Linked DNA regions of Homo sapiens. The protein of the gene in region 1 binds, or shares a complex with, the protein of each later gene. Each region holds a gene or a part of one and is shown on either strand. Other genes may lie near its edges. The genes, in order: CBLL1, WTAP and ZC3H13.

Region 1 (3,754 bases):
GATAATACTTAAATGAATGAGCATAGCTGTGTTCCAATAAAATTGTTTATAAAAACAGGGCTACATTTGGCCCACAGACATAGTTTGCTAACCTGTAATCAAGGGTAAGATGGAAAAACTCTTTTATACTGGTGAAATAGGGGAAGGCCTTTCAAATAATGTCACAAAACCCAGAAGTCATAAAAGCAAAGACCGGATATCTGACTATATAGAATCTTCAAGATTCTCTGCAATAACTATAATCCCAGCACTTTGGGAGGCCGATGCGGGCGGATCATGAGGTCAGGAGATCGAGACCATCCTGGCTAACACAGTGAAACCCCGTCTCCACTAAAAATACAAAAATTAGCTGGGCGTGGTGGCGGGCACCTGTAGTCCCAGCTACTCGGGAGGCTGAGGCAGGAGAATGGCATGAACCTGGGAGGCAGAGCTTGCAGTGAGCCGAGATCCCGCCACTGCACTCCAGCCTGGGTGACAGCGCAAGACTCTGTCTCAAAAAAAAAAAGATTCTCTGCAATAAATATTTTGTATACAAAATTCAAAAGACAAATGAAGAATATATACAATATAGGCCAGGCACAGTGGCTCACGCCTGTAATCCCAGCACCTTGGGAGGCTAAGGCAAGAGGACTGTTGAGTCCAGGAGTTCAAAACCAGCCTGGGCAACATAGCAAGACCCCATGACTACAAAAATTAAATATAAAAAATTAGCCAGGCAGGTGGGGTGCACCTGTAGTCCCAGCTCCTCAGGAGACTGAGGTGGAAAGATCACTTGAGCCTGGAATATCAAGCCATGATCCCACCACTGCATTCCAGCCCAGGCAACAGAGTAAGACTCAGTCTCAAAAAAACAAAAACAAACAAACAAACAAACAAAAAAATATATATACACACACGCACATACATAACATATAACAAAAACCCTATTAATTTACAAAGAACTCAGAAGAAAGGATCTAAACAAGAATGGTCAATGCTATGAAAAAATATACACTCTTTCATAATTAAAATAAATTTACATCAAAACAAAAATTTTAAAAGGTTTCTAGTACTCAGTATTGGTGTATGGCAGTAAAAACTAACATACCTTTTTATTATTATTTTTTTAATTCCAAAGCCTTTAAAACTACAAATTTGGATATTTTAAAACTTGACAGATACTGTGGATTTTAGAGTTTGACAAGTACTGTCAAATTGCTCTTAAAAAAAAAAAAAAGGCCAAATCTGTGCAAAGTACAAATTCTACAAAGTATACATACTAAACTGTATGTCCAAGAATATTTGGTGCAATGTTTTTTGTAACAGAAAAAACTGGAAAAACTGTTAAATAAATTATGGTATATCTATAAATACCCAAACCTATTTTTTTAATGAGGTACATCTGTAAGTACTGATAAGAAAAAAATCTCAAATGCATATTACATGAAAAAATGGCAACTACACATAAAAAATTAATACTTTTGTATAAAAAAGTCAACAGGGATTATCTTTGGATAGAAGGATTTTACTTTTAATGTTATGCTTTCTGCAATACTGTTGAGATTACTGAACAATGGGCAGTATTGCTTTCAACAACAAAAGGAACCAAATCAAAAAATATTTATAAAGGAAAATAAAAATACAATGTGCTACAATGAGAAGTCAAACAAGAAGGTTGAAGAATGAATAGAATATGTAAGACAAAAAGAGGTAGCTATAAGATCACACAGACTGTCCGAAGCAATCAGATAAAACAGAAAGAGTGTTGGACCTATTAGTTAAACAAATTACCTTCATCACCAGGTGGAGCCTTTGCAGGCATCCTGTTTATAGTTCTTTGAGTTCGCGGTGCAGGTTTCGCTTTGTTTGCTTGTTTGGAGATGAGCTTTATAGGAATTCGTCTGCGAACATCAAGACCACCCAAGGATCCAGAACTATTAGTGCCTTGTAACTCATTGTCTGTGTTAGGAAAAAAAAGTTGTAATTTCTTTTAGTTTTTCTTTTTAAAGATTATTCTGCCACAGGTATTAAAACACCATACCTAACATTATCAAGGTTAAAGATCTGGGTTCTGATTTTCAATATTACATTAAGTTTAACTGCTAATTTTATTTATTTTGGATCAACACTTAAGGCAATGCTTTTTAACCCCTTTTGAGATACAGAATCCTTTAAGAAATTGATAAAAGTTATAGGACCTCTCCCTAGAAAAGTGAATAAAATTTTTCATATAATTCCAGAGAAGTTTACAGAAACATGAAACCATTAATGAACCCAAGAACCATTGTCTTGAACTACAAGAGAATTTTTTAAAAGAAAAAGAGTAAGAAGGAGAAAAAGAACGAAAACCATCCCTGTCTCCATGTCTGATCATCAAGCATGCAAAGCAGAAAATAAATTTAGTAAACTGAACTTACTAATACTGATGAAGGCAAAATTAAACAATGCGTTTGAAAATGAAGTTAAGAAATGTGATTATTCCTTAAGCGCAAAATAATTATTCTAAAAATCATTCAGAAATATAGTAAAAATCATTATACCATTTAGTAGTAAAAACATGCAATAATGTATTTGTGCTATAACATGTGACTGAGTTCTTAGTCAGCACTGTAATGGAAAATTATAATTTAAGAGGATGCAAAGTTCCTATACTACAACTAGGTCTAAACAAGTGTCACTTTCTAGTCCCTGGAGTCTTTGCTTGTTATTGTCTATAGAATAAATTAATTCTTGTCCCATGAGTAACAGGAGTATTATTTCATAGAACTGACTCCATCTAAAGCTTAAGAGTTACCTTTTTTCAAGTAGATGAAAATATATAATACAGAAAATATTTAACTTGACCTACTAAAGAAGGAAAATGCTTAAAATAGGAAATACAAATAACGTATTTTTTAATTTGTAGTGTTTTAAACATGACAAGTTATTGAACAAGGTTGTATAACTGCCCCTGCAGGAAATATTACAGTCAAGACTGATAGCCAAACCATCCACATTAAATTCAGCAAAGCCAAATTTGGAAGTAGTAAGCTAGTACCAATGGCCTCCAAGGCTACTAGGATTACAGACACACAATAAGTTCACATTCATTTGCACTTTTTCTGAACAAAATACCAAACAAAATTAAAAATGGGTCCATAACGATTATTTTAATCTACTTACTACTCTTATAACAGCTAATCCTAAAACAAAGAGGGGTGGAATTACATGGTTAGCTAGAATCTTGAGTTAGGGTTAACCCAACTTGATCAGCTTTCAACACTTCATTAAATAGACTCACAAGCTGATTAATGTATTTGATCTGTTTTCATTGTAGTTGCTTATGTATGTAAAAGTACTTACAAGCAATGCATTGGCCAAAAGAAATATGAATGACTTTTTTCCTTGCTCAAAAAGTATTCCTGACATTCCAATGAACTAAAAAGCAAGTCGTTGTAGACATATAATCAGTTCAATGCTGTCCCTCAAATATTAAATATTCAAATATCAAAATGGTTTAATCGTTTTACCTTTGTGAATAATGAAAATACCAACACTTCATTACAAGTCCTTTTCACACCATCCTGAACACTTGAGGTCTCTACTGTTGCTTGCATAGTCTACCACTTTCAAGAGCTGGCTGGCCCTTCCCACTCTGCTTCACAGATTCAAGTTCATGAGGTACAGCATTTAATAATGATAACATTCTGGGTTTCTTTGGGACTTTTTTGCTTTTTGTTGTTTTTAAATTAAGAATCAGAGCATAAAGCACTATTTCCTTTTGAATACAGTAACA
Region 2 (3,754 bases), on another chromosome or scaffold:
TTGACTTTAAATTTAGGTTATTGTGTTTGTCATTTGCGCTAAAAAAAAAATTGCCCTGGGGAATACCAAACTTCTCGGTACATTCGTGTGGTGTGAAAGTCAAAATTGCCAATTAGGTTCTATTTTGACCAAATAGTTGAATGTTGTAGACAGTTGTAAATTTTGAACCTGTTCTAATTTGCCTTTTGCCAGATGGCGCATTTAACTTTGTGGCATATCATCGACTTTCAAGGAAAGATTTACTTTTCATCAGATTAAAGTTGAGGAAGGATTTTCTTTCTAAATACTGAGGCTCTGAATTTCCCAAGTTGGATACCCCAGACAGCTAGAGTGATCTTAAAAGTGACTCTGAGAGTTGACTTAGGAAGTGTAGACATTTATCCAAAATCTGTATTTACTCCTGACTTACATTACAAATACAGAGTTTTATTTTTAAAGAAAATTTCAATAAAAAGCACCATTTAATTAAAATCTACTCACCATCAAACTTTTTAAAAAGAACATAAGCCAATGTCAGGAGTTGGAGACCAGCCTGGCCAACATAGTGAAACGCTGTCTCTACTAGAAAAAAAAAAGAAATACAAAAATTAGCTGGGCATGGTGGTGCGTGCCTGTAGTTCCAGCTCCTTGGGAGGCTGAGGCAGTAGAATCGCTTGAACCCGGGAGGCGGAGGTTGCAGTGAGCCCAGATCATGCCCGTGCACTCCAGCCTGGGCAACAGAGAGAGACTACGTCTCAAAAAAAAGAAAAAAAGAAAAGAAATTTCAATAATTGCAGGCTGGGCATGGTGGCTCACAACTGTAGTCCCAGCACTTTTGGAGGCCCAAGCAGGAGGATTCCTGAGCCCAGGAGTTCAAGACCAGCCTGGGCAACATAGCAAGACCTCATCTCTACTACCAAGAAAAAAAAAACAAATTAGCTGGGCGTGGTGGTTCATGCCTGTGATCCCAGCTACAAAGGAGGCTGAGGCAAGAGGATCAGTTGAGCCCAAGAGATGGAGGCTGCAGTGAGCTGTGATCGAGTCACTGCACTCCAGCCTGGGCGACAGAGTGAGACTCTGTCTCAAAAAAAGAGAGGAAAAAAAGAAAATTTAAGTAACTTCTGTTTAGAATCCTAAATATTGGAGATGCCAAAGAATTCTGCAGTAAGTGTTAGAAACAGTCGGGAGGACAGTATGATTATTATCCTCAACCTGTGGATTATCTCTTCAGGTTTTTCAAGAAACACTGAGTCTGTGTTTTTGATGGGGAGAAGAAACTATTAATTAAATGCCCATTTTGTGCCAGTTACCATGCTAAAGATTAATGTCTGTCTTCAGAAATAGCACAGTATTTGGGCCCTGGTTGTGGTAATTCTTTTTGAGATGGGGAAACTGAGGTGCAGAGATTTTGCTACTTTTGTATTTGCAAAGTTGACAACCTGTTTCAGAATACCAAGGTTATCAGAACTTTCTTCATGTGTTTCTCAGTCCTTTTAATGCCCTTTAAAAACAGATTATCATCTCATTTTTTGCTAAGCTTACTGTTAATTTTATTTTAGTGGAATAAGAATATGGATACCTGTCTTTAAGAAGAGAGTAAGCAAGTAAACCTAGGGAAAGTATCAGGTTGTAGAACCACATACCGATGATCCTTGCCAAAATCCTGGCATAGGAATTTGAACCCTGGTGTATGAAAAGTCTGCCCTTTGCATACTCAGGTTTCGCATCCCGTGAATGCTGTATTTTTGATCCGAGTACTGTATTTTTTAATCTGAGTTTGATTGAAAAAAATCCAAATATAAATGGACCCATGCAGCTAAAACCTGGGTTGGTCAAGGACCAACTATAATAACTTTTATAAGCTGGAATTTATATTGAACAGCATCCATGATACTTTAGTATTACAACTAAAGTTGTACATACTGAGTAGGTAGGATGCCTTAGTAACTAGATAAAAGGTATACCACCTAGCCATAGTGATAAATATAGCTGTTTTCAAACTGTCATTCACAGATCTCTACCACAGTACCTGTTACGTGAAGTTCCTGGTTGGTTCTCAAAATTTTATGTTCGTATATACATAGATACAGATACTGATATACCGGTTAAATATGTACAGCTCAAATAGCTAAAATTGTCTTTAAGATTTTTTAAATTAAAAATATTATTGGCCGGGCGCAGTAGCTTACACCTGTAATCCCAACACTTTGGGAGGCCAAAGCAGGTGGATTACCTGAGGTGAGGAGTTCGAGACCAGCCTGGTCAACATGGTGAAACTAAAAATACAAAAATTAGCCGGGCGTGGTGGCAGGCACCTGTAATCTCAGCTACTCTGGAGGCTGAGGCAGGAGAATCGCTTGAATCCAGGCGGTGGAGGTTGCAGTGAGCCGAGATCGCGCCATTGCACTCCAGCCTGGGCAACAGAGACCGGGCGCAGGGGGAGGGGGAGTGTCTCTGTCTGCTTCTTTCTCTCTCTCTCTCTCTCTCTCTGTATATATATATAGTGTGTGTGTGTGTGTGTGTGTGTGTGTGTGTAAAATTGATATTTAGCTCCAGACAAATGGGAAATTACAAGGAAATGCCAGATTTGATATCTGGGTTCTAAGACTTTGCAGCCTAATGCATGTGTCATGCTAAAATAGAAGTAGTTAGACATGTGGAGTTAAATATGGTGATGGTTTCTGAGATGATTAAAATGACTGCCACCAGGTTAAGGTAGTTACAAAGCAGCTTTCTGTAATGGCAGCAGAGATAATAAACTGGGCAACAAGGGAGGAACCAATTTAAAGAAAAAAAGAATAATATACATTTTATATCATAGTAATATGGTTTATGTCTTCATAGGACAGAGTGACTTGCTCAGTGAAACAGACTGTATACAATTAGCTCAGAAACAAATACTGAGGTTTTTATCTGTTTGCTGTATCCCTTGAGAAAGATTAAAGAGGGAAGGCAGGGTGCAGTGGCTCACGCCTGTAATGCCAGCACTTTGGGAGGCCAAGGCAGTTGGATTGCTTGCGCCCAGGAGTTCGAGACCAGCCTGGGCAGCATGGCGAAACCCTGTCTCTACCAAAAAAAATTACAAAAAATTAACTGGGTGTGGTGGCACATGCCTGTAGTCCCAGGTACTCGGGAGGCTGAGGTGGGAGGATCACTTGAGCCTGGGAGGTCAAGATTGCAGTGAGCCATCATCGCACCACTGCACTGTGGTCTAGGTGACAGAGCGAGACTGTCTCAAAAAAAAAAAAAAGCCCAGCACGCTGGCTCATGCCTGTAGTCCCAGCACTTGGGAGGCTGAGGTGGGCAGATCACCTGAGGTCGGGATTTCCAGACCACCCTGACCAACATGGAGAAACCCCGTCTCTACTAAAAATACAAGGAAGTTAGCCGGGCGTGGTGGCGCATGCCTGTAATCCCAGCTACTTGGGAGGCTGAGGCAGGAGAATTGCTTGAACCCAGGAGGCGGAGGTTGCGGTGAGCCGAGATCGCGCCGTTGCACTCCACCCCGGGCAACAAGAGCGAAACTCCATCTCCAAAAAAAAAGATTAAACAGAGAAAGAAGCAAGCCAGTAATCTAAGATCAATTTATGATTTTTCCTCTAAATTCTGCTTTCTTCAACACAATTTACTTAATCTGAAAACCAGGGTTTAATAACAGTATGATTAGAATGTTTCATTTATAAAGTGGAGTTGAGATTGTACGTAGTATAAAACATGCTGTTGGAAGATTATCTCCTTTTGAGGAATCTCAAAATCAAGTGGGAGAAATCAAGTA
Region 3 (3,754 bases), on another chromosome or scaffold:
CAGATGTGCTGAAAGAGGTGGCGGCAGCAGCAGTAGTGGCAGCAAGAGTTGCAGGCACAGTTGTAGCAGTGGCAGTAGCCACAGGCGGTGGAGGAGGAAGAAGAGAAGATAGAGGAGAAGGGGTACTACCAGGAGTCGTGGCGGTGGCAGTATGCTCTGCTTCTGTCACCTCTGTACGGTCAGGGACATCCTCATCAGACCAGTCACTGAATGCTGTATCTTCTTTTTTCTGGGAGTCCTCTAGAATACCATTCTTACCATTGCACATTTCAACCAATTCCTCTTTAGTTGTTATAGGGGGAGTCCGTGGGCCTCTTTTCTTCTTACTTTGCTGGGCTGCTTCTTCATCAGAAATATCAGAATCACCTTTGGATTTTTTACGTTTTTTTTCAATGCTTTTCTTTTTCTGTCCTTTTTTTGGTGAAAATACTTGACCATCTTCAGATGTTGTCTCTATGTTACCCCTCTCTATTCCAACATCATCCTCTTTCTTTTTCTTAATTGGTTTCTTTTGAATTTTTGCTTTCTTCTTGTTTTCATCATGAGCTCGATCAGATGTCTCTCGATCTTCAGACTGGTGGTGTCCTATAATGTCCTGTGCACGCATTCTTGAGCTTTCCAGGATTTCTGTCTGTTCTCTCTGTTTATCTACAGAAGAAACTTTCTCCTTGAGTTCCTGTTCTTCGTAGCGCCTTGAACTCTCTTTCCTTTCTGGTTTACGATCCTCCTCTTTCCATCTACCCTGTCTGTCTTCTGTGAGGTGCGAGGGACTAAGAGAACGAGATTCTTGAGGTCGTACAACTTGGCTCAAGAGTCTGTGTTTTTCATCTATATAAAAGATAAAAGCAATCACACTCTCACCAGGTTAGTAACCACTGCATGGTACATATAGATTATAATAATTTCTCCTCACACCTGTAATCCCAGGACTTTGGGAGGCCGAGGCAGGTGGATCATGAGATCAAGAGATCAAGATCATTTAAAAACTTTTAAAATGACAATAATTTTAGTAAAAATAAAAATATGGCTTTACTATAAATAGTAGAAAATGACAGTACTCTAACACATACTTTAGTCACAAAAGGAGATATTTAGAGGCAGCAAAGCAAGACAACTTTTTAAAAATCTTAATTCATCAGTTCCTACTAGTATGAAAGGATGGTTTCATGGTTACAAATGAATATGAATATAGAGAGACAGAAAACAGAGTCTGCTTACTTTTATCATCTCCACTGTTGTAGGCATCACTGTCCGGAGAATGTTCACGCCGGCGCTTCGGGGACTGTCTAGGGCTGGGACTCCCTTCATTTCTATAGCGCTTCCTAAATTGGACAAGCAAACACAATTTATAAAATTCTAGGGGGCAAAAAAAGAGATTTTTTTGTTTTTACTAGTATCTCTTTACTATAACTGGAACATATAATTGTAGGAAAGCAATATTGCCAGAGTGTATCATACAAAGGATATTCAGTGTCTTTAATACAAATTCTTTACTTCATTTGCTAAGAATTGTGAACTTAAAATACACAACATTTCTTCTTCTTCTTCATTATACATGTAGAATAACTCAAGTGAAAATTGCCAGATTTAAATACTGTAAGGTGGTAACATGCAGCACAGAAACCAATATATTAATGTACCCTCTGATATAAACATTCAGCAATTTTGCATTCTTATGATATAAAAATGCCTTATGCTGCAGAGCTGAATGAGAAAACCTAATATTGGCTTTGAAGTAAAAAAGCTATGAGTTCAACTTATAACTACATTAGTTATTACGCAGCCTTAAGTAAGTTCCTTGAAGTCACTGAACCTTAGTTTCTCATCTGAAAATGGTGGGTGGGGCTGAATGGGTGGGAAATGAGAGTCCATTTCATAAAATTGCAGTAAGGAATAAATTAGTTATGTCATAAACCCAGTGCCAAATATGTTGTGGGTACACCATAAAATTAGTTCCTTTCCCCTTCATGGAAATCACTTTCTTGCTGACAAATTAATAAAATAATTCATACGTTCATTATATTTTTTGTTCCTTAGTTGAGCTTTAAATGAGTAGCGTTTTATATCTCTTGGGTACTTAAATTATTCTAGTGTTTTCCCCCATTTTCATTAAAATTTGACTACCTGTTTTTTCACTAACATTGTTTGTTTATAAATACTATGGTCAAAAGTTAAGAAACATATTGTATACATGGACCAATGGAACAGAATAGAAAACCCAGAAATAAAGCCAAATGATCTTCAGCAAAAGCATACAAAACATAACTGGGGAAAGGACACTCTATTTACTAAATGGTGGTGGGAAAATTGGCAAGTCACATGTAAAAGAATGAAACCGGATCCCTCTCAGCTCAAACAAAAATCAGCTCAAGAAGGATCAAAGACTTAAATCTAAAACCTGAAACCATTAAAATTCTAGAAATTAACACTGGGAAAACTCTTTTGGACACTGGCCTAGGCAAAGACTTCATGGCCAAGATTCTAAAAGCAAACGCAACGAAACCAAAAATAAATAAATGGAACCTAATTAAACTAAAAAGCTTCTGCACAGCAAAATAAATAACAAAGACAACCCATAGAATGGGAGAAAATGTTTGCAAACTATGTATCCAACAAAGGACTAGTATCCAGAATCTATAAGAAACTCAAATAAATCAGCAAGAAAAACATAAATAATCCCATCAAAAAGTGGATAAAGGACACGAATAGACATTTCTCAAAAGAAGACATACAAACAGCCAACAAACGTATGAAAAAATGCTCAAAATCACTAATCATCAGGGAAATACAAATTAAAAACCACAATGAGATGCCACCTTACTCCTACAAAAATGGCCATTAAAAAGTAAAAAAAACAGGAGATGTTAGCATAGACATGGTGAAAAGGGAATGCTTATTCACTGCTGGTGGGTATGTAAATAAGTACAACCTCTATGAAAAACAGTATGGAGAGTCCCTAAAGAACTAAAAGGAGATATTTGATCCAGCAATCCCACTACTGGGTATCTACCCAAAGGAAAAGAAGTCATTATATGAAAAAAAAAAACATGCACATATATGTTTATAGCAGCAAAATTCACAACTGTAAAGATATAGAACCAACCTAAGTGCCCATTGGCCAATGGGTGGATAAAGAAAATGTGGTATATATACACCATGAAACCATGGACTACTACTCAGCCATAAAAAGGAAAAAAATAATGTCTTTTGCAGCAACTTGTTCTCACCTGTAAGTGAGAGCTAAGCTATGAGTATGCAAAGGCATACAGAGTGATATAATGGGCTTTGGAGACTCAGAAGGGGGAGGGTGGAAGGGGAGTGAGGGATAAAAACGTACATGTTTGGTACAATGTGGACTACTCAGGTGACAGGTGCACTAAAATCTCTGAATTCATCCAGGTAACCAAAAACCTCTTGTACCCTAAAAGCTATTGAAATAAAAATAAAACAAAAACATACCAGCACATGTATATCATAGACAGCTCCTTTATATAGATGAACAACCATGTGGAGAAGGCCCCAGGTGTAATATGACAACTCACAGGCCCAAGCTTGTGTACTACTTTATCCAAAGCTCCTCTCCCATCAATAACTGGCCTATTTCCCCATTTTTCATATCTAATGACTTGCTATGACAAGAGAATGTGGTGAAAGTGACACTGTGCAAATGTGAAGAGGATTCAGGAGGCCTTGCTGCTTCAGCTTCTGCCCTCTTGTTGTTTCTACCATTACATGCAAAGCAGAGTTTAGACTA

What was found.
Region 2: CBLL1 (region 1) and WTAP share a complex: the UniProt entries of both Homo sapiens proteins name them as parts of the WMM complex.
Region 3: CBLL1 (region 1) and ZC3H13 share a complex: the UniProt entries of both Homo sapiens proteins name them as parts of the WMM complex.

The regions. Positions count from the first base shown.
Region 1 is NC_000007.14:107,747,064-107,750,817, reverse strand, and holds part of CBLL1 (E3 ubiquitin-protein ligase Hakai), read right to left. Parts: exon of another isoform or gene 3,322-3,754; intron 1,939-3,321; coding exon 1,771-1,938; intron 1-1,770. UniProt on the Homo sapiens protein: E3 ubiquitin-protein ligase that mediates ubiquitination of several tyrosine-phosphorylated Src substrates, including CDH1, CTTN and DOK1. Targets CDH1 for endocytosis and degradation.
Region 2 is NC_000006.12:159,730,405-159,734,158, forward strand, and holds part of WTAP (pre-mRNA-splicing regulator WTAP), read left to right. Parts: intron 1-480; exon of another isoform or gene 481-561; intron 562-1,992; exon of another isoform or gene 1,993-2,027; intron 2,028-3,754. UniProt on the Homo sapiens protein: Associated component of the WMM complex, a complex that mediates N6-methyladenosine (m6A) methylation of RNAs, a modification that plays a role in the efficiency of mRNA splicing and RNA processing.
Region 3 is NC_000013.11:45,969,144-45,972,897, forward strand, and holds part of ZC3H13 (zinc finger CCCH domain-containing protein 13), read right to left. Parts: intron 1,323-3,754; coding exon 1,219-1,322; intron 829-1,218; coding exon 1-828. UniProt on the Homo sapiens protein: Associated component of the WMM complex, a complex that mediates N6-methyladenosine (m6A) methylation of RNAs, a modification that plays a role in the efficiency of mRNA splicing and RNA processing.